6 separate regions of the Homo sapiens genome follow, and regions 2, 3, 4, 5 and 6 are each reported to be linked to region 1. Evidence: microRNA targets listed by miRTarBase, many of them from high-throughput screens and not tested one by one. Region 1 holds a microRNA gene; each other region holds the end of a gene's coding sequence.
The links. The annotated mature microRNA hsa-miR-873-3p reads GGAGACUGAUGAGUUCCCGGGA and lies in region 1 at 3,351-3,372, shown strand. An mRNA with a match to its seed (bases 2 to 7 or 8) in the 3' UTR can be bound and repressed. Matches are read on the target gene's strand: a 7mer-m8 pairs with bases 2 to 8, a 7mer-A1 pairs with bases 2 to 7 and ends in A, and an 8mer does both.

Region 1 (5,247 bases):
TCAAACTTGAGAACTTGACCTCTTAGAGCTCAGTACATTATGACTGCTTGTTTTTCATAATTCTAATCAAAAACCTGGATAGGTGCATCGCTGCAGTCTAGCATGGAGTGAAAATTTTAAAATTCAGATTTATCTCCACCTATTTCAACCATGTAGTATACTTTATGAACATAGTGATTTGATGAGGTAAAAAAATTTATAAAGAAAGACCCAGTTTGTTATTTCCAACAGTTTATTTTGTTTCTCTAAAGATCAGACACTGGGATAAGGATAGAAAATGCTTATTAACCAAAGAGGTAGTAACATGAATAATGTTAGAGTGTTTATAAAAAAAGTATCTTAAAATAGAAAACTCATATAAACTTTTAAGTGCCTTACAGCATTCACGTAGTCTAAATTCTCATTCTAAAATATGTTGCTCTGTATTTAAGAAATATTTGTATTTCTGTGACTTTGACCATTTTCTTTATTGTGACCTCATAAATTGCATGAGTATTCTCTAAATAATTTATTTCAGCATTGATAATAATAAGTAGCAGAAAGGTTGTCAAAGAGCTATAAAGATGTTAAGGAATGGCTTCTCTTAATAGAAGTACAAGGAATGGGTATAGTTTTCATCATCTTAAATAACTTTTTGAGAAATGTGGAAACAGTTCCCTAGAAATAGCATCTATACTCACCCCAAAGGTACCAGACTTCATTATAATGACAATGTTATTAGTAGATTTTTCAGGATTATAATGGGTTAGGTGTTAATATGACTAATACTCTTTTTTTTTTCTCCAGAAATTCCTTTCCTGCTTCAAGATTTTAGCATTAATATGTAAATTCAGTAACAGGGCTATAACATTCAATTTGTTCTCTCTGTTCCATTCCTTACCCTCAATAATGACAATAATGCTGATAAGAATGATAAAATACTATGAGATAGGTACTACTAGTATCCACATTTTGAAATGAGAAAACTAAGTCCCAGAGAGATTAAATATAATGTGAGGCACACATAGAATACATTGCTTATTCTATGTGTGATAGTTACATACAGGTCTCTGCTTGTAGAACTCTAAACTTTTATGTACTGCTACACAATTGCTTCAACATTTCCTCCTCTGTTTCTTGGTTTGCACCATTTATTGCTATTTAGTGTTTCTCCTTGTCATCTTTGTATATCTGCATCTGTGATATGCATTTGCCACAAATAACCTACGTTTTATTATTAGGTAAAATGTTAATGCAAACACTATAAAGGAAATGATTGTATCACATTTATTTAGCCACCTACTCTACCCTTTAGAAAACTTTTAATAAATGTTCTCTGAGTTGCTGATTATTTATTTATTTACAAATACATTTCATATACTAGTCAGTTGATTTTGTTAGCTGCTGAAGATTTTCTAGGTGTGGAAAAAAGAAAAACAGGATGGTGCCTCTGCCTAGAGGATGCTTATTCCTTGGATAAAGTGGTGATCTACTCTTATTTGATTAGGCTATTTCAAGGATTCTTGACTGTCAATTGGAATTTTAATTGGAGACTTTAACAGCAAATAACCTTTATAGCATATGATTTACATAAATAGATATTCAACAATTTTAATATAGCCACATAATGAGGAGGTTATTCAGTGGGGTCTACTTCCTTCCCCAGCCCTAGTAGAGATTAAAGAGAGAATGTCCCATTGTCCTCCAAACTCCTCTGCCATACAAGTAACTGACTCTGGGTCCATTTGGAGAAACTTCTACACTCAACCACATAAACCTCATAATTCAGAGTAGTTGAGGCTGTATTCATTGTGGCATTCTTCTTCCACCTCATTAAATACCAGGCAGGCCCCTTTGATCAGGTCTCCATGGCAGTGCTGCCCCTGGTACACAAGTGTGTACCCATTTAGGAAAAGACAGTAACTGCTTACCTGCACAACCTAATTATATGGAGATATGGTCTCAGTCCTTTAACAGTGAGACAGAAACAGAAATCCAAGCTCCAGGGACAGGAAAGTCTACTGAGATCAAAACCCCTTCTTTTGCCCCACAAAAACAAAACAAAACAAAACAAAACAAAACAAAAAACCAAGAAAACCTGTAGTTAATTTCTGCCAATTCCTAGATAGGACTTAAAAATTAAACCTCTTCAATAAAGTATTTACATACTGCCTCTTACAAGGGCATATGGTAGTAAAATAAATGGATCTATATGCTATTCTGTACCAAGCATGAGTGCATGAAATTTTACCAGCTGGGAACCTTTATGGACAGAGACCCTGTGTGTGAACAGGCATAATTGCCTATACACATGCTTTTTATGGGGAGAAGAGATAGTGGAATATTTATTTTTTTCATTTGAACAAACTAACATAGGCAAAATTTTCTAGAGCTTAAAATTTCAGAAAAACTGCAAAGACTAACACCTGGTCTTGGAAAAATATTTACCTTGATGATTACCACCTTCCTGGTCAAGAACTGAGCCTGTCTTCTTAGAACGTTAGAGCTAGAGTCTGAGATCTAATGGAGACATTAAAGCTGATAAAAATAAGTTTCAATGTTAGGAGCCATTAAATGGGCAAATTAACCATTTGTTTTTATATGAGAAAAATAATTTATGTGTTGGCTGGTAGAAAAGATTCCAGTTATTAATAATACATTTAAAATTTACAGTAATTGCTGAAACAAAGGTTTTTTAATAGAAAAAGACAACTTCAATAACATTATATTTATGTATAAACACTTCCATTCTTTGTTTCCAGTTATTATATCATCATCACACATTTATATCCAGAATGAAAAGTAAAATAGCCCAAATAATAATTTTTAAAATTAAAAAAAAAACTGAAGCAAAAAACATGTTAAATGGTGTGACATGGAAATACTGCTATGTCTTAGCTGCAGTAGGGCTAGAATTCTGATCTCGTAGTTCCCTTTGCTAGATTCTTCCCATTGCACCAGGAAGTACAAATTTAAATACCACTGCCTCTCATTTGGCATTGGAGACTGATACTTTGACTCAGGCATTATTGAAAGTGAACTGGACTAATGTTTGATAGAATTGCCCTAAAGGCAAGAAATTATTTATCACTCTATCTTTAAAACAAGAACAGTGACCTGCTTAAGGGATGCTCAATCAATATTTATTGAATACATAAATGAAGGTGACCAGTGTCTGGGATGCCCACAAAACTGTTTGAAAAGAATCACAAGCACCAGGCAAGCTGCTGAAGATACTCCAGGGGAACAGATTACTGTATTCACTTGAAATGGAGGAAATATGAACAGCTGCTTATCTGCAAATGGTTCCTGCTTAGAATAAGTTTGTGTGCATTTGCAGGAACTTGTGAGTCTCCTATTGAAAATGAACAGGAGACTGATGAGTTCCCGGGAACACCCACAAATCTTCCTACTCATTTCTACTGCTTTGCAATGGACAACATTTTATGGCTGGTACCTTCCACTGTTGTCAGTTCCTCCAAGTTCTGAGTATAAGTTTAAGTTCTAAACAAGGAAGTAATGTTGAAAATGCAAAATAATTCAGTTAGGCAAGGGTTAACTTGTCCACTCAACATGGATGTCAGTAGGTTTACTTGAGGTGTTGAATCCCACCAAGGGAAGCATCTCTAATAGTCCTGATCTTATCTTTGTAAACTCAGCAGACATTCTACAAGACATAAATTATTCAATGAAATGAATGGTGCCAGTGCTTATGTGAAAGATAATTTATAGACCTTGCAGGAAAGGAAAAAATTAAAAATCATATGTATTCCCTTAAACTTTTTTTCTTGGTTGTATCTAATCAGGAGTTTAAGTATATAAATGTTGAGATTGTTATCTAATTTTTTTCTGAGAAAATATTTTCTCTGTTCATGTTCATGTGTAACATCAACTTATGTAATTAGTCTTTTTATATTTCAGGATTGTTCAATGGACCACATTTAGCATCAGCATTGATAGCATGAATCTGTTGTTAAATCTCATAAAGCAGCCTTTCATGAAACCACATAAGGTTGATCCTTTATAATCTGTTTATGGTCTTCTTTTAACAAGAGTGACAAATTCAATTACTGAAGGAGGAATATAGTAAATGTATGAAGTTGATGATGTGTATCCTACATTAGTGAGTAGCAGAGACTCTACTCATAGTCATACCTAAATACTTTCAAATTCACTTAGAAAAATGAATCATATCTAAAGGTTATATTTGTGTTAAATATTCTATAATAATTAGTGATAAAGTTCCTCTCAGTGTTTTTCTACATTCCTCAAAATGTTATCTTCAAAACATTCAATGAAGTTCTTACATGTAAGCTGGTAATACAAATCTTACCTTCATTTTGACCTGTCTTTTTTCTAAAACAATGTGCAGCCTTTAAATTTTTTGCAAATTAAATCCAGTTGGAGCTTATTTCTGTAGGATTTCTTCAATTGATTTTAATTATCCTGGCATAAATATGGAAAAATATTAAATCGATTGAAAGCATGTTTTCAGACAGAAGTATCGTCAATCACTGGTCAGTAGACCTTTCTGTTTCTCTTTCACAATCTAGGATTACAGTTCTCAGCCTTTTTGTTTGTCTTTTTGCCCCACATCTAAACCCATGATCCTTGTGTCTGTGTGATCACACTGCTGGATGTGGCTGAGATAAAACAATGTGTTGGCTGTATTTTATTTCCAGTAGCTTGTTGTGATGTCTCCTCTGAAAAGCTTATCTTACTAGAATGCAATAAGGTGGCATATATGTCACCCTGAACATGCCCTTCTTTTTTTTTAATAAAAGCAAATCATCCACTAACATTACTCTTTAATATTAGTAACAAATTACTGGCTTCTGCAACATGTCATCAGGTACAATCAGGAGAGAGTTGAGAATCACTTTTCTGGAATGTATAGTTCATCCTAATGCCAACAGTTTTTTTAAGACCAGGGGCAAGTTAGAACAATAGGCCTCATTCAAGGAGCTCATCTGACCCTTGACTTTCAATAACTAGAGAAAAAAAAATCCTTTCAATTTTTTTCCCACATGTAGATCAATAACATGGAACTTATATGTCAGCATCAACTCAGCAGACATCTCTATTGAGCATCTATTTTCAACTGTTCTGCCAGAGTCTGGGGTTAGAAACTGACAAGCGTGTTTGTATAGCTCTTTGTTCATCATTATTATAATGGACACAGCATTATATGTACAAGGTCCTGCCTCACTCGTTGGAAATCATACATTAGGCTTTCTTGTTCATACCCTGCTCTGCATTACCTTAAGC
Region 2 (5,247 bases), not on the chromosome of region 1:
ACCAATGTGGTGAAACCCCATCTCTACTAAAATTATAAAAATTAGCTGGGCGTGATGGTGTGCACCTGTAATCCCAGCTACTCAGGAGGCCGAGGCAGGAGAATCGCTGGAACCCAGGAGGCGGAGGTTGCGGTGAGCCAAGATTGCGCCACTGCACTCCAGCCTGGGTGACAGAGCGAGACTCCATCTCAAAAAAATAAATAAATAAATAACTTTCCACGGTATGAGTCTATGTTCTATAGAAATATTGCATTTGCACAGAGGTAAATGTAAAGGGATGTTTGCAGCACCATTGTTTATAATAGAGAAAAGTTGTCAGCAACCTCAGTATATGCCAATTATGGTAAACACATAATTGAATACTGTGCAACCATTACATAGATTGTAGATGATCTGTATATACCAGCGTCAAAAGGTGTTTGTGATAAACAGAGTTAAAAAAAAGCAAGTTATGGAATAGTGTGTACCATCTGTGTTGGTTAGAAAAGCAGAAAAGTATAAGCTCATAGAAAAATATATGGCCAACGTGTTGGCTTATGCCCGTAATCCCAGCACTTTTGGAGGCCAAGGCAAGCAGATCACCTGAGCCCTGGTGTTCGAGACCAGCCTGGGCAACGTGGCGAAACCCCATCTCCACCAAAAAATATACGTATTAATATATAAAGCTAGCCAGGTGTGGTGGTGCATGCCTGTAGTCCCAGCTACTCGGGAGGCTGAGATGGGAGAGTTACTTGAGCCCGTGAAACAGAGGTTGCAGTGACCCAAGGTGGAGCCATTGCACTCCAGCCTGGGCGACAGAGCGAGACTGTGTCTCAAAACAAAACAAAAAAATACTTGGTAGGTTAAGAACAAAGTGTTTATAGGTTTTCTGTGTGTGCTGAAGGAAAGAATAAGGTGAAAGACTTTTACTGTAAGTCTTAGTGGTTTGGCTGATTTTTTTATCTACCTAATACTTGCTTTTTTTTCTTTCCATAGCATTATAGCCTTCAGAAAGGCCAACAAAGTGGGTATTTTCATCAAAGTTACACCACAGCGTGAGGAGGGTGAAGTGACCGTGTGCTTCAAGATGAAGCATGATTTTAAAAACCTGGCAGCCCCCATTCGCCCCATTGAAGAAAGTGACCAGGGAACAGAAGTCATCTGGCTCACCCAGCATGTGGAACTTAGCTTGGGCCCACTTCTTCCTTAAAAGGTTCCACTGGAGGGCAGATCCCAAAGGACAGTATCACCGTAAACCTGCGTTAAAATGTGGAAGCTGCTGCTTCATTAGGCCTTGTTTATAACGATGTACCCATGCACTACGGAATTCTATTGCTAAGAAAGTGGGAGCATAGGCAAGGCATTGGGAACACAGGGTAGCTGCTGTTGCTCTTGCTCTCACCCCTGTTGACACCAGTAAGTCTGTGTCTCCCTCACTGAACCCTGCACGTTGAGTAACAGCAGCATAATTCCATCCTAGGAAAGGGGATGGGTGTTCCTTGGAATGGCATTGTATTTACCACCTGAGAAACTCTGTACTGTCTCTTGATCTGATCTCACTAAGGATCACAATGTCACAGATGAAACTTAAATGATAACCCAAAGGTAGACCTGCTGTTAATGATCCAGCATTGGTCACAATGTACCAACTGCTTTCTGCATTCCGTTAAATATCATCTAACAGTCTAAAACATATCCCTTCATTGCCATAATGGCTGCCATTTTGCCATAGATTTCCATATAACTGAAAAACTGAATTGTCACTTTATCTTTAGTATCATGATGATTGGAAAAACCTGTGAAGTTGTTAAGGCACTCTCATTTGCCCTCTTTTTCTAAGTGAATACAGGACACGTATTAGTTGTTCTTAATTTTTTTCCCAGTAAAATATGGATCTTTTAAGAAGAATTTGAGAAGCAAACAATTACATGTCATGTCAAGGGGGTAGCAGATTCCATTCGTTTTCAATATTGCCACAATACCCAGGGATTAATGCTGCCACAGGGGGGCAATCTTTATTTGTCTTACTTCCTACCCCTTCCCTGTTCTGCCTCTTTAACTCAGTTAAGTTGTTCTGTTTGGGACCTGGAAAAGAACCCAAAGAAAACCTGAGTGGACAGGTTCATTTCTGGAATGCAGAAAACATTTTAAAGGCTAGATTTTTAGAATATTCTCAACTAGCATTCTTTCCATTGATTTGAAGGGGAAATTAACTATTATAATCTCTTGAATCCAAAACTGGATATTAAGAACTTTCCCCCTTACTAAGTTTAAGACTTTTGTCATGTGGTGAGTCAAATAAGACCATTTTGATTGTAAACCATAAAATAGTTCAGCAAGTAGCCCACAGTTCTGGCCTAACAGCAGACTTGCTGTTTTCACTTGGTATCCTGGAGTTGGGTTGCTAACCTTAATTTCTATGATGTTTTCTAAAATGAAACTTGATAAAGTAGACCACCAGCTGCACCGTGTTTTCTGTAAAAGTATTGTTAGTAAGTGGCCAAGAGACTTGAGGAAAATACAGATTTTTTGTTTACCTTGGTCTTGTTTTAAGTCTTAAAAAATTAAAGATAACATTATAATGTAGAATACAGATGGGACATAGTCCTTGTAAGCTTCCCTTGAAAATGTTTTAAATATTTAGGAAGCTTTTAAAAGACACTAAATTGTACTCTAAAAGACACTAAATTGTACTAATTGTACAAAGGTCAAGCCAATTTTATGAAACAGTCCTACAGAGTAATATATGTGATGCAGTGTAAGAAGGAAAATACTCATCTCTAACATTATGGTAATAACATTTAGCCTCTTAGGAGTTGGAGCAGGGGGATGGGTAATTACAGATTTGCAGACTATAGAAAGAGTTTCATTTTTTTGTGACCCCACAGAGTCTCAAATTTTTATTTCACTACCTGCTAGAGCCTACTGTGAAATCACTGCTCCATATTTGCCAGTGGAGGAAATGGGCATAGAGTAGAGAATAGCTTCATATGTTTACACGTTTGCATAGACTACACACATGTCATGCGTTTATGGCAGGTAGCTGGTATTTATTCCCCAAAGTAATAATGTTGAAGTATGGGTCTCATCATTCCCATACACAGAAACACAAAACACTTTGATCATAAACTTTTTTCTTCAGAAGCCAAACTAACTTGCAGAATAATAGAGCCACTGGTTTAATGTTTCCTCAAGATAGGTTTTAGTGTAAGCTAGTATTCTGTGTGTTCGTAGAAATGATTCAATACCTGCAGCTGGTGAATTAGGAATTGTATTTGTTGCCTTTTTTATATTAGATGAGGTGCAAAAATTTTAATGCTAGTCAGTATGCACCACCACAGGAAAGTTAGATCCCATTAGCACTTGAAACTACAGCTTTGGAAACTTAGGCTAAGTTAATTTGGATTTGTTACTTGATTCACCTACTGACCTTTTCTTTTGTTTGAAGTGCTTATCAGCATAATGAGCTAAGTGTCATGCATATTTGTGAAGAAACACCCTTTTTGGTCCCTTTTGGGACAGAGAGGTACTCCTTGATCTTTATGAATGACAGGTTACTGTTTTGCCTTATTGCTTAACTTAATGTAGTGAAATAAAGCAGACAAAGCTTGAGCGTGTCTTTTGTTTGCTCTCATGTAGATACTAAGTAGCATGGCTCAGAGCCAAAAGACAAGCGTGAAGTTAAGAGAGTTGGCTAAGAGAGTTGGTGGGGCATGCTCCCTTCCATTCCTTAAATGAAGTAATCTAAAATCTCTTAGCAGGTTAGTTCACCATAATATATAAGTAGATGTTGCTTTGAGCTTCTTATATACATATTCACAGAACCATTATATAAATGTTGTTAGACCTCTACCAGTTTTTATCCTGGGTCATTGCTTCTAAAGATATCCTTTACAATATACACAGTGGTCTGACTCCACCAGTGGCCACTCATCACCTTCATCTGTACCTTCATAACTGTTCCTTCCCTCCTCTTACTTAGATGAATTATTCATACTCTTCCTGTTGGAACCCAGCCCCACCTCTTAACACTGAAGCTCATCCTCTTACCTATTCACAGATAGCATCGGCAGCTCCCTCCTTCCCTTTTCCATTAGCATGTGATTTCTCTCATCTTAAAAAAGAAATTGGCCTCACTCTCCTCTTCAGCTGCCACTCCATTTCTCCACTCCCTGTACAGCAAAACTCCTCTAACTCTGACTGGGCATGATCGCTCACACCTGTAATCCCAGCGCTTTAGGAGGCCGAGGTGAGAGGATGATTTGAGGCCAGGAGTTTGAGACAAGACTGGAAAACCTAACAAGACCTTGTCTCTGTTTAAGTAAAAGTTTTTTAAAAAACAAAAATGGCCAGGTGCGGTGGCTCACACCTGTAATCCCAGCACTTTGGGAGGCTGAGGCGGGCAGATCACGAGGTCAGGAGATCGAGACCATCCTGGCTAACAAGGTGAAATCCCGTCTCTACTAAAAATAATAAAAAAAATTAGCCGGGCCTGGTGGCAGGTGCCTGTAGTCCCAGCTACTCTCGAGGCTGAGGCAGGAGAATGGCGTGAACCTGGGAGGCGGAGCTTGCAGTGAGCCAAGATCACGCCACGGCACTCCAGCCTGGGCAGCAGAGCGAGACTCCGTCTCAAGGGAAAAAAAAAAAAAAAAACCCTAATTCAACCTTCCAGTTCCTCCATTCTCACCTGAACCCATTCCAGTTAGACTCTCACCGCCACCACTTGGTCGAAACTGCTCTTGTCAAGGTCACCAGCAATCACCACACTTAAATACAGGGTCAGTTCTCAGTCCTTAACTATGCAATTTTTCAGTAGATCTGACAGTTTATCTCTCCCTTCTTGAAAGGCTTTGCTTGGTTTCCAGAACACAACACTCCTGGTTTTGAGGCAGAGCAGGGACCCCCTTTTAGGAGGCTTGTGGGCCCCTCCATGCATGGAAATAAAGGGAAATCTTGAGTTCCTTCAAGGGAATTCTAGGCACCTAGCTAGCCCAAAGAAGTTAATGAGCAACCTGATAAGCAAGAAGTAGCTGAACACAATAGCCAAGGAAGTCAGAGTGAGATGTTTTGTTCCCTATAGAAACTAAGGGTAACATACATGTCCCCAACTTTTCAGAAACCTGAACTCTCACCAGCTTTAAACCTCAGATAAGGGGAAACTGAGAACTGAACTCTGACCACTGTTCATTGTTCTAAGTTGCTTCCTGAGGGGCCTGGAGGAAGTCATGTCCACCGGCCAGAGCTAACATTCTTTTCTGTGGATCCCAA
Region 3 (5,247 bases), not on the chromosome of region 1:
CCAACAGAAGGATTTTTGGAGGCCAAAGAAGGCATTTATAGACAAGACTCCCATTTCTAATTCCAGGCAGATAGGGTGCCCTGGATAAAGCCCTTTGCCCACCAGGCTTGACCCAGGTGGGCCATGTGATTTTGTACCCCACCGAGACTTGCCAGGCTCAGTTCAGGGTGGGTCAGGGGAAAGAAAGAGGGAAGGACAGAATGACTCCGAGCAGAGGATCTGGGGCACGGGAACTAGTGCCTCAACATGTTTACCTCTGAATTTGTGAAGGAGATCTCAGAGACGATGTAGATTCAGCCTCTTCATTCATTTACTAATTCATTAATTCATTTACTAATTCATTAATTCATTGACTAATTCATTAATTCACTTACTAATTCATTAATTCATTTATCATGTGTTTATGGAAGATCTATAATGTATGTGGCAGACACTGAGGGCAGCCCTGGGAATGCGGAGATGAACAGGACAGAATAAGAAGTCTAGAGGGGAAAACAGAGATCAAATAATTACGAATAGGATAAGAGTCTCAAAGGAGAAGAATAGGGGGCCGGGCGCGATGGCTCATGCCTGTAATCCAAGCACTTTGGGAGGCCGAGGCAGGTGGATCACCTGAGATCAAGAGTTTGAGACCAGCCTGACCAACATGGTGAAACCCTGTCTCTACTAAAAATACAAAATTAGTCGGGCATGGTGGCGCATGCTTGCAATCTCAGCTACTTGGGAGGCTAAGGCAGGAGAATTGCTTGAACCCAGGAGGTGGAGGTTGCAGTGAGCCGAGATTGCACCATTGCACTCCAACCTGAGCAACAAGAGTGAAACCCCATCTCAAAAAACAAGAAACAAAAACAAAAAAAAACCCAACAACAACAAGAAAAACAAAAGGGGGAATGATAGGGGTATTTAATAGGAAAGCTGACCCAAACTGGAGTGGGGGAAGCATGGAAGACACCCCTGATGCTGTGACTCTTAATCTGGTGTGCAAGGTGTAAGTCGAAATTATGTAGGGTGAAGAGGTAAGAGAGGTGTGTATCAGGTAGTGGCAACTGCACATGCCAAGGCCCTGAGGAAAGAGAGGAGGGTGTAAAGTAAAGAAGGATGGCTGGGCCTGAGACAACTTCAAGGAGTGAGGGTGGCAAAAGATGAGGCCAGAGAGATAGGTGGGTGCTGGATTAGGGAATGAACTAGAAGCTACATAAAGGATTGGGGGCTTTATGCAAAGGTCTCTGAGAAGCCATGGAATCATTTTAAGCACGGGCGTAACATGATCAGGTCTGTGTTTTAAAAAGATCACTCTGGCGGGGCGTGGTGGCTCACGCCTGTAATCCCAGCACTTTGGGAGGCCGAGGCGGGCGGATCACGAGGTCAGGAGATCGAGACCATCCTGGCTAACACGGTGAAACCTCGTCTCTACTAAAAATACAAAAAATTAGCCGGGCGTGGTGGCAGGCGCCTGTAGTACCAGCTACTTGGGAGGCTGAGGCAGGAGAATGGCATGAACCCAGGAGGCGGAGCTTGCAATGAGCCGAGACTGCACCACTGCAGTCCAGCTTGGGCCACAGAGCAAGACTCCATCTCAAAAAAAAAAAAAAAAAAAGATCACTCTGACTGTTGCTCAAGGAAGGCTCATGGGGTAGCAGTGGAAGCAGGGGGCACATTTTGGAGGCTGATCAGATGAGGATGGCTTGAGTTGGGGAAGCACCAGTGAAGATGGAGAAGCTGGAGGTGTTTGTGATCTATTTCCCAGGGGTGTTGCAGACAGGACCTGTTGATGGGTTATGTGAAGGGTGGGTGGTCAGGGAAGGAAGGCATCTTTGAGCAGAGACCTGGGGGCGTTGAGGGAGTGAACCATGTGGGTATGATGTGTGGGGCAAATGTTTTCAAGGGGAGGGCACAGCAAGTGTGAAAAAGAAAGAGGGGATGTGTTAGTCCATTTTCGGCTGCTATGAAGGAATACCTGAGGCTGGGGAATTAATAAAGAAAACAGGTTTATTTGGTTCATGGTTATACAGGCTGTCCAAGAAACATGGCACCAGCATCTGCTTTTGGTGAGGGCTTCGGGCTACTTCCATTCATGGTGGAGGGGGAAGGAGAGTGTATTAGTCCGTTTTCATGCTGCTGATAAAGACATACCTAAGACTGGGTAATTTATAAAGAAAAAAACGTTTAGTGGACTCACAGTTCCATGTGGCTGGGGAGGCCTCACAATCAGGGTGGAAGGTGAAAGCCACGTCTTACATGGTGGCAGACAAGAGAGAATGAGAGCCAAATGAAAAGGGAAACCCTTTATAAAACCATCAGCTCTCGTGAGACGTATTCACTATCATGAGAACAGTATGGGGGAAACCACCCCCATGATTCAATTATCTCCCACCAGGGTCCTCTCATATTATGGGAGCTACAATTCAAGATGAGATTTGGGTAGGGACACAGCCAAACCATATTAGAGAGCCAGCATTTCACATGAGAGGGAGCAAAAGAGAGGGGAAGTGTTCTATGCCCTTTTAAACAATCAACTGTCCTGTGAATTAATAGAGGTGGGACTGAGAGCCTGAATAGAGGGGGTTTAAAGAGACTAGGTTGGAACAAGATGCCAGCCAGAAGCTAAGGGGACAGTGTCCAGGCTGAGGAGCAGGGCTGGCAATCCAAGCAGGGTCTCTGAACCACAGCCAAGAGATCTGGGGAGCAGAGCAGAGCTTCAGACCCCAGGAGGAGAATCTGAAGTACAAAAAAGACAACTTAGAAAGAAGGAAAAGTCTAGAACATGAACCTGGAGAGCCAGATGGGGAGGAAGGCTACAGCTGGAGTGAACTCTGGTGCCAGGCTCAGGGCAGCAAGACTGATGGCAGATGCTTCCGTTGGTGGGGAGAGGACTTAGCTTACATTGTTAGGCTCAGACGGGCTGACCATGACAGGAGGGGAATGAAACCAGCCATGCAGGTCTTCCGTGCTCACAGCTGACCAGAGCGGTGGTTCTCGACCCTGACTGTACATTTCAAAAATCTGGGAAGCTTTTCAAAAAATACAGTGTTCTGCCCCCAGCCTCAAAGCATCCCTATTCATTTTTCTCCAATGGAGCTGGCCCCATTTTCAAACATCTTCCCAGATGACTGTGTTGTGCAGGCAGCGCTGAGAACTGCTGTTCTCCACTTCAGCTTATTCCTGTGTTTGGGACTGAGCCAGTGTGGGAGGCACCTTGAGATAACGGGAGCTATAGAGATAGTCAGCCCTGGCATCTGAGGGCAATGACTGCTGTAAGCACTGAAGGAATTTGTTGACTTTCCCCAGAAGAGCAATCCTCATAACACTGACCAAAATGAACATCCTGATTAATTATGCAGGTTTATAGCTCCCCAGAGGCTGCAGAAAAACATCATTTGGCACCAGAAACAAACTTTATTCTGGCAATGCAGGATAATTTTACAAACATTAGATACTGAATTGTGCATATATCTCTGGAATTTCAATGTACTACATCCATAGAATGCAGAAAAACAAGGTCAGGGCCAATTTCTCACGCTGCCACCTGGACCAAGCAGTTCCAGGAATCCTCTGGGTTCTCTCAGCCCTCTTGTTCCAGATTTCAGTGGTGTCCTGGGCAGATGTGGTTTTTGTCTGGATTTCTCTCTTTGGGGAAATGCTTCTAACCCATTATATGCAGTTTGGATGGGCTGTCAGTGACAACAGGTAACCCCACCTCTGTCTGTGGGGATGTGGTCCAGGACTAGCCAGTCCTGGCAACAGTGATTGGCTCAAGAGGTAGACATGGAATTCAAAAGAGGCCCATAAGCATTGTTTTTTAGGTTTAATATATGGATAATGGCAAAGTTCTCTCCTGAAGATATAAAGCTGGAAAATGAGTCTGGGTTTATCATTTGTCATTGTCCACACACTGTGTGGGTAAATGAAGAAGATTGCTAGAGAGAGAGGAAAACCTAGGGATGAGAGAGAGGAAGACAGAGGGGAGACTGAGAGAGAGAGAGAGAGAGAGGGGCAGAGAGAGGCAGAGAGACAGAGAAGAGAGAGAAGCAGAGAGGGGGAGACAGACAGAGAGAGAGAAGAGAGACAGAAACTGAGACAGAAAGGAGACAGGCCAGGCGTGGTGGCTCACGCCTGTAATCTCAGCATTTGGGAGGCTGAGGCCGGTGGATCACTTGAGACCAGGAGTTCGTGACCAGCCTGGCCAACATAGTGAAACCCTGTCTTTACTAAAACGCAAAAATTAGCTGGACTTGGTGGCACATGCCTATAATCCCAGCTACTCAGGAGGCTGAGGCGTGAGAATCGCTTGAACCTGGGAGGTGGGGGTTTCAGTGAGCTGAGATAGCACCACTGCACTCCAGCCTGGGCTACAGAGTGAAACTCCATCTCAAAAAAAAGAAAAAGAGAGAGAGAGAGAGAGAGAGAGAGAGAGACAGACAGAGATAGGGGAGAGAAAGAAAGAAGGGGGAAAGACAGAGACAGATGGAGGTGGGGGAGAGAGATAAGGAGAGAGGCAGAGAAGGAGAGAGAGAGTTCTGGCAATGCAATGCCTAGTTCCAGGCCTCCCGACTCTGGTACCTCAGTCTTGTGAGCTCTCCCTGCAGCCTTTAAGGGTTAAGCCCTTTGGAGCTGGGTTTGTGTCCCTGGCGACAGAAGGCATTTTGACTAGGGCAGAAGGTTTCTTGTCGACCTCATGGGAGGCCAGACGTGCGGGGTATGCACTGGAGAGTGAGGCAGGCATGGTCAAAGAGCTTGTGCGGCAGCTGTCCCTGGGATGTCCAGGTGTCCGTCTCGGGGTCGTAGCAATCGAAGGAGGCGGAGTCCTCAATGTTGCAGTCCGTGGTCAGCCGCCGCCCGCCCGTCACGTAGAGTTTGTTTCCCATCACTGTGGCCCCATGGTGCATCCTCCGGTCTTTCATGTCCGCACATTTGACAAATTTGTTGGATTGAGGGTCATAAGCAAGAATCCTCCTTGTGTAACCTGAAAACCAAATGACACATGGGCAAGCTCAGTGTTGCTCATCTGGGACTGGAGGTCAGCAGTCCTGGGACGCGTCTGACTCCTGCCACTGCGTAAGGCTGAGGCTGGGGCTCTGAACTAGCACGTGGGATGTTGAGCTAACCTGCCAAGGCCTGCTTTGTGGCAGAGTGGGGGCTGGCACGCAAATCTGCCTGACTCTGACCTTCACCCCAAGTTAAGGCAGCATATAAGCCATTCTTAGATTGGGAGCGGCCTCCTGATTCCTGTAACTTTCTCAGCCTCAT
Region 4 (5,247 bases), not on the chromosome of region 1:
TGAATAATGATTTGGCAGGGGAAGTTGCTATTCTGATAAAACAGTGTCTAGATTTTCTGACATGTAACAAACCTCCAAGAAACATGATAAAATATAAATGAAAGCTCAATCTATCCAAAAAGAATATTAGGCCAGGTATGGTGGCTCACACCTGTAATCCCAGCACTTGGGGAGGCCAAGGCAGGCTGATCACTTAAGATCAGGAGTTCAAGACCAGACTGTCCAACATGGTGATACTAAAAATACCAAAAAATTAGTTGGACATAGTGGCATGCACCTGTATTCCCAGCTACATGGGAAGCTGAGGCATGAGAATCGCTTGAACCCAGGAGGTGGAGGTTGTAGTGAGCCAAGATCGTGCCACTGCACCCGAGCCTGGGAAAGAGTGAAAGTGTGCATCAAAAAAAAAAAAAAAAGATAGCTGCTGTTTTGAGAAATTTATAATCTGTTCAACAAACCCAAGGCTAAGTTATGCTGTACTACATAGGAAGTGTAGGAAGTGTACTTATTTTATGTGTTCATTAGATTCACTGAAAAACTGATTGTGAATGCTTGTAACCCTTCCTTATATGATGTTGTATTTTATATTCAGGTTCATGTTAATCTGCTTCTTATAGAAGCTAGGATGCAAGCAGAACTCCTTTATGCTCTGAGAGCCATTACCCGCTATATGACCTGATGCCTTTCCTTCATTAAAGATGATTCTGGAATGATCAGCAGATATAGTCTACAAGGGGGAAGGTACTAAGCCCCAGGACCAATGGTAGACAAAATAATTCAGAAATCCATTGTGCCATGATTCCTTTAGTTTCTGCTATTTTTCTGTGGAAAACCACTGCTGGCACAAGCAGTGACTGTTTGGCAGCTTCAAGTTTAGAGCTGTGAAGACAGGCTGCCATTCACAGTATTTTGCTTTTTGACAGTACAAGATGCTGTGTAACTGTTTTAATACAGCAAATAGTAACTCTCCAAATCCTGTTGCTTTTATGTTAAATAAGATAACAAGAATTGGAGCATGCAAAGAATGGGACTTGGATAATGACTTAAGCTTTATATGTAAAGAATTTTAGAAGATCTTGGTGCTGCTATTCCTGCTGGAGGAATGAATAGATGGCTGTTTCAGTTAAGCTATTAGTAATAAAAGTGAACATTGCTACTATCTGAGCCTACATACATAACTTGTGTGATTTCAAATTAAACTTGCATTATGTGTTAATTTTCTTGCATCTAAAAAAGCATAGAATTCCTACTCACACAGCTCAGCAACAACCATTTTGATGGTAACAGTTAATTTCTTTCATTAGTTTTTTAAATTCAGGGTTCTGGATATTAAATTAAAATGGCATTCTTAAAGATTTTCTTCAAAAAGCAATCCTAAATGAAAGTGTGTAAATTATAAGAAGCTGGCGATCTTTTGATATGCTGTTTCACAGGATCCTGACACTGGAGGGCAGCTGTCTTGTGCATTACTTGTGTTTCCAGCACCAAAGTTGTGGGACATGTTGCTGTAGACTGCTGCGCAGTCCTGGGTGCATTCAGTCTCTCTGCCTCTGCCTGCCTCCTGGTCCCCACTTTAAAGGCTGTGCAGCTCCTTAAATAATAAAGCTGGAAAATATTTTTAGTCGGGTTATCAAATTTGATTTACAAAAACGCTAACTTTGTTTGAAATGCAAACAGGTTTGAAAATATGTATTAAGTACTTTGTATTCTGGAAGCGTGAATTGCTTTTGAAGTCTGTCAGTATTACTGGTATTTTTAAATAAAGAAGAATTTTTCTCCAATTTTATTTGCTGTCTCAATCTCTTAAAAAATCATGACTTCACTATTAGTAATAATTTTGAGTTTCTATCTACTTTCATAAGCCAAGTACATTCACACTTAAATGGCAAAACAACACTTGAAGCCATTTTGAAACATACAAAGAGGAGTGGACTTTCTTTAGAATCTTATCTGAGACCATTTTTATCTTGGAAATGACTGGTATGGCCCTATGCCTGCTCTCTTTTCAACTGTTTTAGAGTTCCAATAGAATTTTAAGAATTACTAAAAAGAAGGATTCATTAGGGAGAGACTACAGAACAAAAAATGACACTCATCAGACAAGTAGAAATAGCTCTAAGTTTAACTGAAGCTGTTGTGATGATAACTCTGTTAGTTACTCCTCAAAACATTTATTGAGCTCAATCTAGTGCCTGCCTACAAATGTATGGGGTAGTGTGGAAGTAGGGGTTGGGAAGGATCAATTTTGAACAGAGGTGGTACCTGTCCTCAAGGATATTTACTCTCATGAGAAGACAAGACTATAACCTTAGCTAGGAATAGAGTATTATTATCTTCAATATGTTTTATATTTAAAGAAACTTACTTATAAGTGCATTACTCATTGAATATGCATCATGCCTTTGTCCTCTTCTGCCTGCTGCTGAGTTCTCTCACCAGAGCAATACAATTGAACCCAAGAAGATAGTTAAAATTTTACTTATCCCATTTCTGCTCTTTGTTCCTCCTCTTGAAAATACAAAATTTCTAGTAGAGATTCTAATCAGCAGTAGAGTGATCACAAAACAAGATCAACTAGAATGCATTTAGTCCACTGGAACTTATAATCACTTAGAAATTGAAATCAAAATTTTAATGAGTTAAAAAATATGTTTATACCTAAAGTAATAAAAGTGCATGTGATACAAAGTTAATGTTTCAATGCCTTCCATTTAGCAGGTGCTTCCTGTTGGAGTGTTTTCTCAAAACTAAACACACAGGATTTCTAATGTTACTATATAATCTTTGAAACCAGTAGTTTCCAAAATAATTAGGGAAGGTACATTACACTGGGGATATCAAAACCTTCCCCAACCAGAGGAAAATTTTCTTCTAAAATAATCATGAGAAGATTTCTGGTTGAGGGTCCCAGGATTCAAGAGTTAAAATCTTGAGTTGTTTTGGCCGTATTTGGGAAAATTTTTTATTAGGCCAAACTTTATCATCTCTAAGAATGAGATTGATTTTGATACAGACCACCAGGAGATAAGTAGATAAGTAAAACTTGTTGGATAAGCACTTTTTATCAATATACTCTGAAATTTTATTAGCATATTCATATATGTGAATATCATACATGAATCAGAAATGTTACTAGCATATTTGTATATGTGAATATCATATATGAATCATCATACTAGTTTTTTGCTAACACTGGTAGATGGGAGTAATGTCAGCAAGATGATGGACTTGGGAACTCCACGTCCTCATTCTCCCAGAGACGCTGAGTTAACAATATATGGGCCAGAATATCTTTGTGAGAACTCTAGAAACCAATTGGGAAACTGCAGCATTTAGGCAAATGCAAAGCCAGGAAAAGGCCGCACCAAAAGGCTAGGAAAGTTTGTGGATTTTGCTCACCCTAGCTCTTCCCCAGCAGAGGATGGTGTGATCAAGAGGAAGCATAAATTCAGCAAAGTTGTAGGATACAAAGTCAGCACACAAAAATCAGTTGTATTTCTATACACTAACAATGAATGATCCAAAAAAATTTAACAATTCCATTTACAATAGGATCAAAAAGAATAAAATACTTAGGAATAAACCTAACCAAGGGGATATGTGATGGCTGAATGTTTGTGTCTTCCCCTACATTTGTATGTTGATGTATGTTGTATGCTGAAATGTAATCCTCAATGTGGTGATATTAAAAAAGTAGGCCTTTGGGAGGTGATAAGATCAAGAGGGCTCTGCTCTCATGAATGGGATTAGTGCCCTTTAATAGAGGTCTGGGGAGCTCCCCTTCTACCATGAAAGGACACAGCTAGAGTGTGCCATCTGTGAGGAAGAAAACACTCACTAGGCACTAAATCCTTGATATCGGACTTCCCAGCCTCCAAAACTGTGAGCAATAAATTTCTGTTATCTATAAATTACCCAGTCTAAGGTATTTTGTTACAGTAGCCTGAACAGACTAAGACAAAAGACTTACACATTGAAAACTAAAGCAGCAGTCCCCAACCTTTTTGGCACCAGGGACTGGTTTCATGGAAGACAGTTTTTCCATGGACCCAGGGTGGACGGTGCAGTGGGGGATGGTTTCAGGATAAAACTGTTCCACCTCAGATCATCAGGTATTAGATTCTTACAAGGAGTGCACAACCCACATCCCTCACATGCACAGTTCACAATAGGGTCAAGCTCCTATGAAAATCCAGTGCTGCAGCTGATCAGACAGGAGGCAGAGCTCAGGCAGTAATGCTTGCTTGCCCACAACTCACCTCCTGCTGTGCAGCCAGTTCCTAACAGGCCACAGACTAGGACTGGTCCATGGCCCATGGGTTGGGGACCCCTGCTGTAAAGCATTACTAAGAAATTAAAGACACAAATAAATGGAAAGACATCTCATGGTCACCCAGAGTGACCTGTAGATTCAATGCAATCTCTATCAAAATCCCAATGGCATTTTTCACGGAAGTAGAGAATTCCATGCCAAAATTCATCTAGAATCTTCAATGGACCCTGAATAGCCAAAACAATCTTGAAAAAGAACAAAGTTGGAGGTCTCACACTCCCTGATTTCAAAACATATTGCAAAGCAACAGTAATCAAAATAATGTGGAACTGGCACAAAGTCAAACATACAGGCCAATGGAATAGGGTCCAGAAATAAATTCTCACATATATGGCCAAATCATCTTTAGCAAAGGTACCAAGACCACTCAATAAGGACAGGACAGTCTCTTTAACAAATGGTGCTAGGAAAACTAGATATGCACATGCAAAAGAATGAAGTTGGACCCTTATATATTAAAAAACTCAAAGACCTAAATGTAAGACTGACAACTGTAAAACTAGATGAAAACACGGGGAAAGTTTCACAACATTGGATTTGGCAATGATTTCTTAGATATGACACAGAAATTATGGGCAACAAAAGAAAAAAAGACCATTGGAATTACATCAGACTTAAAAATGTCTGTGCATCAAAGGACATAATCAACAGAGTGAAAAGGCAACCTATGGGATAGGAGAAAATATTTACAAATCATATATTTGATAAGAGGTTAATATCCAGAATATATGAAGAATTCCTACAACTCAAAAAACCAAATAACTAAAAAATGGGGCTGGGAGTGGTGGCTCATGCCTGTAATCCCAGCAGTTTGGGAGGCCGAGGCAGGCAGATCATGAGGTCAGGAGATCGAGACCATCCTGGCCAACATAGGAAAACCCCCGTCTCTACACAAAAATTAGCTGGGCATGGTG
Region 5 (5,232 bases), not on the chromosome of region 1:
CGGTCAGTTTCACCCTTTGGGTCTCTAAGTGTCCGGTTCCCCCTCCCCCACAGCCAGCCTCTGATGAGCCAGCCTCTGTTATGTCGGGTGGTTAATTTCATTCCCTGGGTTGCGGTTTCAAATCTCCTCCTCACGCGTTGGGCATTGGTTCCAACCCCTAGGATTGGACAGTTTCGTCTCAGGGTGGGCCAGGACTTTCCTTGGTCATCTCCACTCCGCATTTGGTCGCGCGTTCTGTGGGCAGTGCGCAAATGCGATCGGGGGCACCACCAGCTCCCGCATCCGTCCCTCCCTTCTTCCCCCTGCCACTTTCCCCCTTTCTCCCCACCCCTTTCTGTCTCTGCGCCCTCCCCTCCCGTCTGTAGAACCTCCGGAACCCGAAGCTGGAGAAAGCGGAGATATTGGAGTTCGCCGTGGGCTACTTGAGGGAGCGAAGCCGGGTGGAGCCCCCGGGTACAGCGCGGGGGTGGGGCAGCGGAGGGAGGGAGGGGGGACGCCAGGAGGCTCCGGCCGGGGCAGAGTGGGCGGGCCCTGCGGTGGATGGTGGGCTTGGGGAGTGGCCGGTTCTGCTCCGAGGCGAGGTTAATAACACCCGCGCGTGTCTGTCTCTGTGTCTCCCTCATTTTCTCCCTCTTTCCGTCCATCTGGCTTCCTGTCTCTGTGCGCCTGTCCGGCCTTGGTATCTCTGCGCCCCGCCCCTTCCCTCACCCCTGCCGGGCCCCTGCCCTGCCCACCTGTGCTCCCGCCGGCCGCACCAGCCGCCGCGGCTCCAGGGGTTCCCCGGTCCCCAGTCCAGGACGCCGAGGCGCTCGCCAGCTGCTACTTGTCCGGTTTCCGCGAGTGCCTGCTTCGCTTGGCGGCCTTCGCGCACGACGCCAGCCCGGCCGCCCGCGCCCAGCTCTTCTCCGCGCTGCACGGCTATCTGCGCCCCAAACCGCCCCGGCCCAAGCCGGTAGATCCGAGGCCTCCAGCGCCGCGCCCATCCCTGGACCCCGCCGCACCGGCCCTTGGCCCTGCGCTGCACCAGCGCCCCCCAGTGCACCAGGGCCACCCTAGCCCGCGCTGCGCATGGTCCCCATCCCTCTGCTCCCCGCGCGCCGGGGATTCTGGCGCGCCGGCGCCCCTCACCGGACTGCTGCCGCCGCCACCGCCGCCTCACAGACAAGACGGGGCGCCCAAGGCCCCGCTGCCCCCGCCGCCCGCTTTCTGGAGACCTTGGCCCTGAGCCTTGGGGGGTGGTGGGGGCGGGGTCTAGGGGTGGGGTAGAGACTCCAGCCCGAGGGCAGCAGAGGGACCCGGGCGTCCGGGCGAGCAGGTGTTGGGGAGGGCAGTGGGGCGCGCGGGCTCAGCGCGCGGGTGAGATGTGGTCTATATTAGAGTATCTATATAAATATATATTTCCCTGGTTCCTGTCCCTTTTCCCTGCCCCAACTTCTCCCTTGCGTCTAGGATTGTACTCTCTCTGCCCCTCAGCCCAGTCCCAGTCCCTTCCCGAGTCCCTAGTGCATGGAATAAAGTGGTTATTAAATCCCCGTGTGTCCCCGAGCCAGGGGCCTGCCTTTATCTCGACGTCCACGCCCACTTTCCCTTCCCTTCTGTCTCCCACCCTCAGTCCTGCTCTCCATGGCCCAAGCCCCGGGGCAGACAGGTAAGTAAAGAAGAGAGCAGAGCGGGAACTGAGATCGAAATTGAAACCAGGTGGAAAGAGAGAGATAGGGTAGGGGGAGAAGGGATGGGGGCCTTTAAGAAAAAAACGGATAAAAAGGAAAAATTGAAATAAAATCGACTCTGGTGGGATTCGAACCCACAACCTTTGAATTGCTCTATTCGTCACTAGAAGTCCAATGCGCTATCCATTGCGCCACAGAGCCACCCGACGAACGGCGGCGTCTTGTAGCTTACGGGTACTAGAGTGGGAATGGGGCAGGGTTGGGGAGCGGGGCTAAGGGACTTGGGCGGGACATGCCAGGAGGGCGCGGTTTGGATCTCAGAGGCCAAGCCAGGTAGAGGTAGCGGGCGCAAAGCATGTTAGCCAGGTGAGAGAGAGGGCGCACATGGGTCGAAAAAACAGGGAGGGAGAGCAACCGAAAATGGCTGAGCGAGCGAGTGCAGAGCTCCGGCTGCCCGCTTGGGGGGTGTTTCCGGCTCAGGCGCTCCCCACTCCCAGATATAGTCCCACCCAAATAAACTAGTTTTGTTGTAAATTTCTGTGTGTTTTTGTCTCTTCTCGTTTATCTGTTCTGCCATCTGCTGCTATGCGGTCCACAGTCTCGATGGTTCTTCATTTCCAGTCTAAAAGATGTGGAAAAGGAGACGAATCAATTTGGCACTCTTAAGATTTGCCCCATTCCTTACTTCTAGTCTCTTAGGAGGACAACGGGGACAGTAAGTTTTCGTGCAGGTAGCGTGGCCGAGCGGTCTAAGGCGCTGGATTTAGGCTCCAGTCTCTTCGGAGGCGTGGGTTCGAATCCCACCGCTGCCAGGCTGGAGTTTTTCTGGTGGATTACGCACCTGCTACAGTTCTGTTAACAGTTCTGTGAGGTTACACCTATTTACATGCAGAAAGTAATTTTACGAATTCCCCTGGTAATGGTTTCACCATCATCTTCCGTGTTTGGTCTTCCAGAGAGATCATAGGCCTGCATCCATCCCAGAAGCTAAGACCTGATGGTAACTGCTGAAGCAATATTTCGTTTCTTCATAACATCTCTATTATTTCGTTTCTTCATAACATCTCTATTTTAACATGTTTTCAAATGTTAGCTCAACTTCCAACATATTTAAATAATTTATTGTACGTTCTCTTAACACTGTGTTATAGGACTCAATTATCCGGTAGGAAAAGCACAAATAATTGGTAGTGTCCTAGTTTACTTTTTTTTTTTGTCGTATTATCTTGGGTCATAGGAGTATCCCCTCTGTGAAAATCAATTAACAATATTCAACATGCTGATATTAAAAGAAAAGCTTCAAGGTTCCACCGAGATTTGAACTCGGATCGCTGGATTCAGAGTCCAGAGTGCTAACCATTACACCATGGAACCTCCCTCGTGGTGTCTTTCAAGATTGTGTACATTACTGGACATTCTATTTTGCGTGTCTTCCACACCCGTCACTTAAAACGAAAACAAAACAAAGTCTGCTGTTGGATATGGTAGACACCGTTATCGAGCACTTGAAATATATGAATTCAGATGTATTGCCAGCTTCTAAATACACATCTTCTTTTGAAGGAAGGCTTTGTACAAACAAAAAGACTTAAAATTTCATTAATATTTTTAGAATGTTGATTATATGTTAAAATAAGATTTTGGTATATTAGGGTAAGTAAAATAGATCCGTGAAATTAATTTCGCTTGCTTTTTATTCTTTGTAATGTGGCTACCAGAAAATGTAAATTCGATAATACGGCTCGCGTTTGTACTGTTTTAAAGTATGTTTATTACCCTCCACCGTCGTTTGCTGTATTTTGTGGAAATCAAGTTTCTGTATCACCTAGCTTTAAAAACTAGTAACTATTTTTGTTACCATTTTATGCGAAGTGCGGTACCCAAAAGCAAAGACATGCCGCCCGAACAGGGACTTGAACCCTGGACCCTCAGATTAAAAGTCTGATGCTCTACCGACTGAGCTATCCGGGCTCTTCACGAGAGCTTTACTTTTTGCTTATAAGAGGGTTCTCTATAGGAAAAGCCAGGCTTGTAGAACCGACAGAGGATTTTATCTGTGCAGCATAGAATATTTTGGCACAGATTTGGAAGCAGCGGGTGAAGCTCGCCTGCTGCTGATTGAGCTTTTTCTGCCTCCCGTTCTTAGAGCCCCCGCCGAGGCTGCGACGCAGGGACTGTACCATAGTAGAGGCTGGAACAGTGCGGCGCCGGAACCGGCCGCGCGGGGCCGCTGCGGGCTATGGGCTTCTCTGAGAGGTTCCTCCCCAGTCCCTAGTGGCCCAGATCCCGGACACCTGGGCTCCCGCCCAGGATCCTGCAGGCCCAGGGCGGTCCTGGAGCGGAAAGAATGCCACGCGGGGCATTCAGACCCTGTTTGCCGGCGCTGTATTTCGCTTTCCTGACCTGCCCTACTCCAGAGCAGAGAATGAGGTCGGGCGTGCCAAAGGCTGGGGACAAAGAGGGCCATGCGTGGGGGGATCGGTGTATGGGGTGACAGGGAGCTGTTCCTGACCATTTGACATGTGCTGGAATGCGTGTGCGACTCACCTGCGTGTGGCTGCAGTCACGTGTGATTTATGACCAAGTGCAACTCTCCACTGTTTAGTGATTCACACGGATGATTCACACGTAGGAATGCAGGTGCCCTGTGCTCATCTCTGCCTGGGAATGGGGAGGAACAGATCTTGGGGGACATTGGGGAGTGGGCGGACAAGCACTCCAGGGCATCAGTCCGGGCCGCTGACCAGGCGGAGGGCAGTGTCCCAATTATACAGGCGTTACCTCCTTTTCTCCATCTCAGCATCTGATCCCTCCCTCCGCAGTGGAACCCAGGCTCCTGATATCCATCTGGGTGAGCCAGCCAGAGGGACCGGCTGTGTCAGAGGCAAGCAAACAAGTATTAGAGTGCAAGACTGTGGGCGGAGAGAGGAAGCCCGAGCCGCCAGCAGGGAGCTTCGGAGAGAGAAAGCCCAGGAACATCCCAGAGAGAGCTGGGCCCATCCTCAGCCCTACCCAGCCCCGCAGCCCCTAGCCCTCCGCCCAGAAACCCAGCCCTGTCCGGCGTGCCGCTCTTCTCCTCCAGGCCGGCTGCTGCTGCGGCCAGCGTTGCCGGGGCATCCCTTCCTCCTTCCCATCATGGCAGTGTACCGCCTGTGTGTGACCACTGGTCCCTACCTGAGGGCCGGCACACTGGACAACATCTCTGTCACACTGGTGGGCACGTGTGGTGAAAGCCCCAAGCAGCGGCTAGATCGAATGGGCAGGGACTTCGCCCCTGGATCGGTGAGTACAAAGGAGACAGGGAAGCGCGACCTCAGAGGGGCAGGGGCCGCAGGCGGGAGGAGTATTCCTCCTGGACTCTTGAGATCCTGCTGAACTCAGGATACCGGCCCTGACCTCCTCACCTTCCCTATTGAGGTCCCTGTCTTTCCTGGAGATGATGAACTCCATCCAGGCAGGACTGTGGAGAGGAAGGAGCGTTGGACAGGGAGTAGAGGGACTTCCCCTGGCTCCTAAACTCCTCCCATAATTGACCGTGGGCTTTGGGCAAGTCGCTTCCCCT
Region 6 (5,247 bases), not on the chromosome of region 1:
ATAAACCTGGGTAACCTAGTGAGACTGTATCTTTACAAACAAGACAAAAGTTAGCTGGTCGTGGTGGTGGTTGCCTGTAGTCCCAGCTACTTGGGAGGCTGAGGTGGGAGGATTGCTTGAGCCCAGGAGGTAGAGGTTGCAGTGAGCCAAGATCACGCCACTGCACTCCAGCCTGGACAACAGAGCCAGACCCCATCCTGACCCCCCTACCCCCTCCCCAAAAAAAGAAAAAAAAGAGGGCAGGATGATGTATCTTCCCACTTCATATTTACTCCCAACATGCCCCTGAAAGTCATGTGACTATTCTATAATTATTTTAGAAACTTGTTTCCCTTTAGGTATCAGATTTAAACCAACCCCAGTGGCTGGACTCACTTAAATCCTTTTATTGTTTCTTCATAAGGCAACTGGTCTAAAATACATGCTTTTTCTTTTCTTTTATTCTCTCCTTGCCTCAAGAAACATTTCTATGTGGTGACTGCTGCCAACAGGTTAAGGAAATTTCCAACTTCTCCCTAATCTTCAACTCTGCTGCTCCAATGGGTCCAGAAATTACTGAGGCCAGTGGTGAAGTGAAGAGATGACTCAAACATTTAAATAATTTGGCTTTTTGGTATTATTGATTCCACTTATTTTGTAAAAATGGTTATGGCTGCTGCCTTCCTTGTGGATGAAAAGTGGCTGTAAAGAAGCTTCCTAAGAACGTTTTTTTCTGCCTTGTAAGATCACTACGTGTGAAATGCTCTGAGTACCTTTCAAATATACCTACTTTTGGTGGTAAGTGTAGGGATGCTTTAGGTAGGTACTTTGCATCTGTCGAATTTAAATTCTAAACTCACACTGATTAAGGAACTCAGTAGACTACTTTGCAGGGGCCATGTTATTCAGTGTTATCTCCTCCAGTACAAAGAATTCCTAGAATTTTGATTTGCTCAGGTGTGAGCTGACATTTTATTGTACTACCCCATTCTTGTGTTAAGCCATGTGGATTTAGGACAGTGATCTTCAAACTTGCTTTAACTTATGCTCCCTTTTGAGAATCAGCATCACTTGAAATGTCAAAATATGTCAACTCTCATAGCCAAATCAAAGAAGTGATCATTTTGACTGTGCTTTTTAAATCTCCACACACCTCCACCTCTCTCCTAATTCTGCCTGTCTTAACCCCTCTGTCTTAGTTATAAATTTCTGGTCTTGTAAGTCTGGAAGCTGATAGGCAATTTATGAAAGAGATAAGAATGTAATGAGGTTCCGCTTTCTGAGAAACACAGAAATGATACATCCTGAGACATAAAGGAAAGCTGCTCTTCTGCTGCCTCAGGCTGTAGCACTCTCAATGTTGTCACTCTACACATACACTTTCTATATACATGTACAGTTGACCCTTGAACAGGGTTTGAATTGCAGTCAACTTAAATGTGGATTTTCTTTCACCTTTGTCACCCCTGAGACAGCAACACCATGCTCTCCTCTTCATCCCACTCTGCAGCCTACTCAACAGGAAGATGATGAAGATGAACACCTTTATGATGATCCACTTTCACTTAATGAATAGTAAACATATGTTTTCCTCCTTATGATTTTAGTAACTTTTCTCTAGCTTACTTTATTGTAAGAATACAGTATATAAGCTGGGTGTGGTGGCTCATGCCCATAATCCCAGCACTTTGGGAGGCTGAGGCAGGCAGATCACTTGAGGTCAGGAGTTCAAGACCAGCCTGGCCAACACAGTGAAACCCCATCTCTACTAAAAATACAAAAATTAGTGGGGCGTGGTGGCGGATGCCTGTAATGTCAGCTACTCTGGAGGCTGAGGCAGGAGAACTGCTTGAACCTGGGAGGTGGAGTTTGCAGTGAGCCAAGATTGCACCACTGCACTCCAGCCTAGGCAACAGAGCAAGACTCCGTCTCAAAAAAAAAAAAAAAAAAGAATACAGTATATGTATATATACACACACACAAACACACACACACACGAACACATATGTGTGTATGGGTATTAACTGACTGTTTATATTATTGATAGGGCTTCCAGTCAACATTAGGCTATTAGTAGTTAAGTTTTTGGGGAGACAAAAGTTATACTCAGATTTTCTACTGCAAGGGGGTAGGCACTCCTAACCCTCACATTGTTCAAGGGTCCACTGTACATTTAAACACTTTTCTATATGCATTAGAGTAGCCCTGTCATCCCTTCACTGAAATCATACTGTTCTCAACATGGCAAGCAACTAACACTTTTTTTTTTTTTTGAGACAGGGTCTCACTCTGTTGCCCAGGCTGCAGTGCAGTGGTGTGATCTTGGCTCACTGTAGCCTCCGCCTCCTGGGCTCAGGCGATCATGAGTACCTGGGACCATAGGTGCCCGCTACTACACCCAGCTAATTTTTGTATTTTTAGTGGAGATAGGGTTTTGCCATGTTGCCCAACCTGGTCTTGAGCTCAAGCGATCCACCTGCCCCAGCCTCCCAAAGTGCTGGGATTATAGGTGTGAGCCACCACACCCAGCTTCAACTAACACATTTACGAACTTGTATACATGTATATTTAGATACTTTACCAACTTGTAAAATGGTTAAAGGAGTACTTTATTATGAAAAAATATACAATCTTTAAAATTTCCTTACTTCTACATGATTTTTGTGCTATTCCCATTTTTTTCCTCAGGTGAGCAGCTTTAGTTTTTTATTTTTTTTGAGAGAGTCTTCCTCTGTCACCCAGGCTGGAGTGCACTGGTGTGTTCTTGGCTCACTGCAACCTCTGCCTCCCGGGTTCAAGTGATCTTGTGCCTCAGCCTCCCAGGTAGCTGGGATTACAGGCGTGTGCTGCCACGCCCAGCTAATTTTTGTATTTTTGGTAGAGATGGGGTTTTGCCATGTTGGCCAGGCTGGTCTCGAACTCCTGACCTCAGATGATCCACCTGTCTTGGCCTCCCAAAGAGCTGGGAATATAGGCATGAGCCACTGTGCTTGGCCTCAGGTGAGCAGCTTTAGTCAATGTTGTGAATTTTAGATTTTAATTAGACATGCAACAGTTTCACTACCTTTCAGGATTTTTGTCCTGTAACAGAGGCTCTTGCTTTTTGACAGAGAGGTAGGCAGGTGGAGAGGTTATCCTGCTGCTGCAGTTCTCAAGTTGTTAAGTTTCCTCTGGAAGGCTAACCCTTGTTGGGAACTAACAGTTTCAATACCAGCAAGTCTAGGCCTGCTCCAAGTTGGTCAGCTGAAGAATGAACATCAGAAGACACAGCTGCTGAAAGTTGTCCTTTGATGAGACAGTGATAGTGATTTGGTAAAATGTCTTATTTTTTAAATGTCAGTTATCTTTCTTTAAAAGGTTTTTTGAGGGCAGCCTCCAGAAGGAGCTAGAGAGTATATTTTATAGTTCTATTGTGGTTCATACCCTGTTTTCGACTTAAGATTCTGGAGAATGCTATGAAACATCTCCCCAGAAAAAGACAGTTAATTACCATATCTAGAGCAGCACTGCCCAACAAAAATATAGTACAGGCTATACACATAATTAAAACATTTCTAGTAGCTTCTCTAACAAAACCCATTGAAAGCCAATTTTAATAATTTATATAACTTAGTGTATCAAAAATATTTCAATATGTAATCAACATAAAATTGAGATACTTTACCAGCTACTAGGGAGGCTGAGGCCAGAGAATCACTTGAACCCAGGGGGTGGAGGTTGCAGTGAGCCAAGATCACACCATTGAACTCCAGCCTGGGCAACAAGAGCAAAACTCCGTCTCAAAAAAAAAGAGATATTTTATATTCTTTTTCTCATACTAAGTCTCAAAAATCTGGTATATTTTACACTTAAAAACACATGTCAAGGCTAGGCATGGTGGCTCACATCTGTAATCCCAGCACTTTGGGAGGCCAAGGTGGGCAGATTGCTGGCCAACATGGTAAAACCCCATCTCTAAAAATATAAAAATTAGCTGGGCGTGGTGGCGCATACCTGTAATCCCAGCTACTTGGGAGGCTAAGGCACAAGAATCACTTAAACAGGAGGCAGGGGTTGCAGTGAGCTGAGATCACACCACTGCACTCCAGCCTGGGTGGCAGAGCAAAACTTTGTCCCCACCCCTGACAAAAAACAAACAAACAAACAAAACAAAAAAAAACCTGTCAATTCAGATGCTAGGTTTTCATCAGACGTACTTAATCTGTATTTAGATTTCTTAAAACTTACTGTGGAAAATGTATTTACATACTCAAGTTGTTTGAAACATAACTCACTGTTTTCCAATAACTGAAGTATCCACTTTTACATGTATTAAAATTAAATAAAATTAGAAATTCAGTTCTGCAGTTGCACTAGCCACATTTTAAGTGTTTAATAGCCACACGTGGTTAGTGGCATCTATATTGGACAGGGCAGATCTAGAGAGAATCCTGTATCTAACAATTTTAATTTTTTTCCCTTTATGCTGTTATTCCTTACCTAGAGAAACAATTTCCCTCCAAAGTTCCTTTGAGGGGTCTGTTTAGGCCAGGCCAACACAAGTGACCTATGTGGATTTTAGCATCCTTTTTTTGAAATTTGAGGTTTTATGAAGCTTGAGTTTTTCTGGATATTTTTAGTAATTTGCTGGTGTGTACTTAGCTCAAATACTTGATTGCAACTGTGTTGGGTCAACTATTTCTAATGGGACTTTTCCATTTGCATGTACAGTCACTGGAAACTGCTGGGCAGAGAAACTCTAAAAGGTAGTTGGGGCACACTTTTTCCACCTGTCAGATTGGTGAAGAATTGGTGAGGCTGTGGGGAAAATGGCATTCTCCCACTTTTGATGGATATGTATCCAAATAAAAGTCATTCCCATGCTTTCTTTCATCCAGAAATTTTATTTCTAGAAATTTATCCCTCCGTACTTGAACAATTGTATAGAGATTTATTCAAAATGATGTTTACTATAGCACTGTTGCTAATGGCCCAGTAAAAACAACCAACACATGCCTATTAGTTTGGTTTTAGTTAAATGAATTTTGCCACATCCATGTAGTGGAATACCTCACAGCTGTTATAGATAGATCTAGATATACTGAAAGCCATTTTTTCTTAAATTATAGAATGTATATATGGTATCATCCCATTTGTGAAGAGACATATGCTTATATGTGCATTAAAAAACCGTAGGATATGCAAGAAACTTAACAGTGGAGTGTGAAAAGTGGGTGATTGGGAGAGGGGGAATTCCACTTTTCATTTATCTTTCTGAACCTTTTGAAT

Region 2: miRTarBase lists DCTN4 as a target of hsa-miR-873-3p. Seed matches in the 3' UTR shown: 7mer-A1 at 2,868-2,874.
Region 3: miRTarBase lists KLHL38 as a target of hsa-miR-873-3p. Seed matches in the 3' UTR shown: 7mer-m8 at 3,965-3,971.
Region 4: the mRNA of SESN1 is a reported target of hsa-miR-873-3p. Seed matches in the 3' UTR shown: 7mer-m8 at 1,537-1,543.
Region 5: miRTarBase lists HES7 as a target of hsa-miR-873-3p. The part of its 3' UTR that is shown has no 7-base or 8-base seed match.
Region 6: the mRNA of MYLK3 is a reported target of hsa-miR-873-3p. Seed matches in the 3' UTR shown: 7mer-A1 at 3,800-3,806.

The regions. Positions count from the first base shown.
Region 1 is chr9:28,887,014-28,892,260 of GRCh38, reverse strand. MIR873 (microRNA 873) reads left to right here and starts at 3,306; the gene lies at 3,306-3,382. The region is part of intron 2 of LINGO2 (leucine rich repeat and Ig domain containing 2); the gene reads left to right.
Region 2 is chr5:150,707,091-150,712,337 of GRCh38, reverse strand. DCTN4 (dynactin subunit 4) reads left to right here. Exons shown (of 13, transcript NM_016221.4): 13 at 976-3,898. The coding sequence ends at 1,189. Among named protein-coding and RNA genes, the nearest start is that of RBM22, 8.7 kb to the right of the region's middle.
Region 3 is chr8:123,641,066-123,646,312 of GRCh38, forward strand. It overlaps KLHL38 (kelch like family member 38), which reads right to left. Exons shown (of 4, transcript NM_001081675.3): 4 at 3,377-4,963. The coding sequence ends at 4,674. Among named protein-coding and RNA genes, the nearest start is that of KLHL38, 10 kb to the right of the region's middle.
Region 4 is chr6:108,982,976-108,988,222 of GRCh38, reverse strand. It overlaps SESN1 (sestrin 1), which reads left to right. Exons shown (of 10, transcript NM_014454.3): 10 at 593-3,914. The coding sequence ends at 679. It also overlaps a transcript of ARMC2 not described here. Among named protein-coding and RNA genes, the nearest start is that of ARMC2-AS1, 61 kb to the right of the region's middle.
Region 5 is chr17:8,117,564-8,122,795 of GRCh38, reverse strand. It overlaps HES7 (hes family bHLH transcription factor 7), which reads left to right. Exons shown (of 4, transcript NM_001165967.2): 3 at 366-453; 4 at 759-2,204. The coding sequence ends at 1,225. It overlaps ALOXE3 (arachidonate epidermal lipoxygenase 3), which reads left to right and starts at 4,282. Exons shown (of 16, transcript NM_021628.3): 1 at 4,282-4,310; 2 at 4,493-4,952. The coding sequence starts at 4,806. TRK-TTT3-5 (tRNA-Lys (anticodon TTT) 3-5) reads right to left here and starts at 3,641; the gene lies at 3,569-3,641. It overlaps TRQ-CTG1-5 (tRNA-Gln (anticodon CTG) 1-5), which reads right to left and starts at 3,044; the gene lies at 2,973-3,044. It also overlaps TRL-TAG1-1 and TRR-TCT2-1. RefSeq lists silencers at 616-725, 946-1,405, 2,346-2,555, 2,926-3,015, 3,146-3,195 and enhancers at 3,716-3,815, 3,966-4,035, 4,116-4,195, 3,917-5,116.
Region 6 is chr16:46,702,976-46,708,222 of GRCh38, reverse strand. MYLK3 (myosin light chain kinase 3) reads left to right here. Exons shown (of 13, transcript NM_182493.3): 13 at 460-5,247. The coding sequence ends at 519. Among named protein-coding and RNA genes, the nearest start is that of ORC6, 16 kb to the right of the region's middle.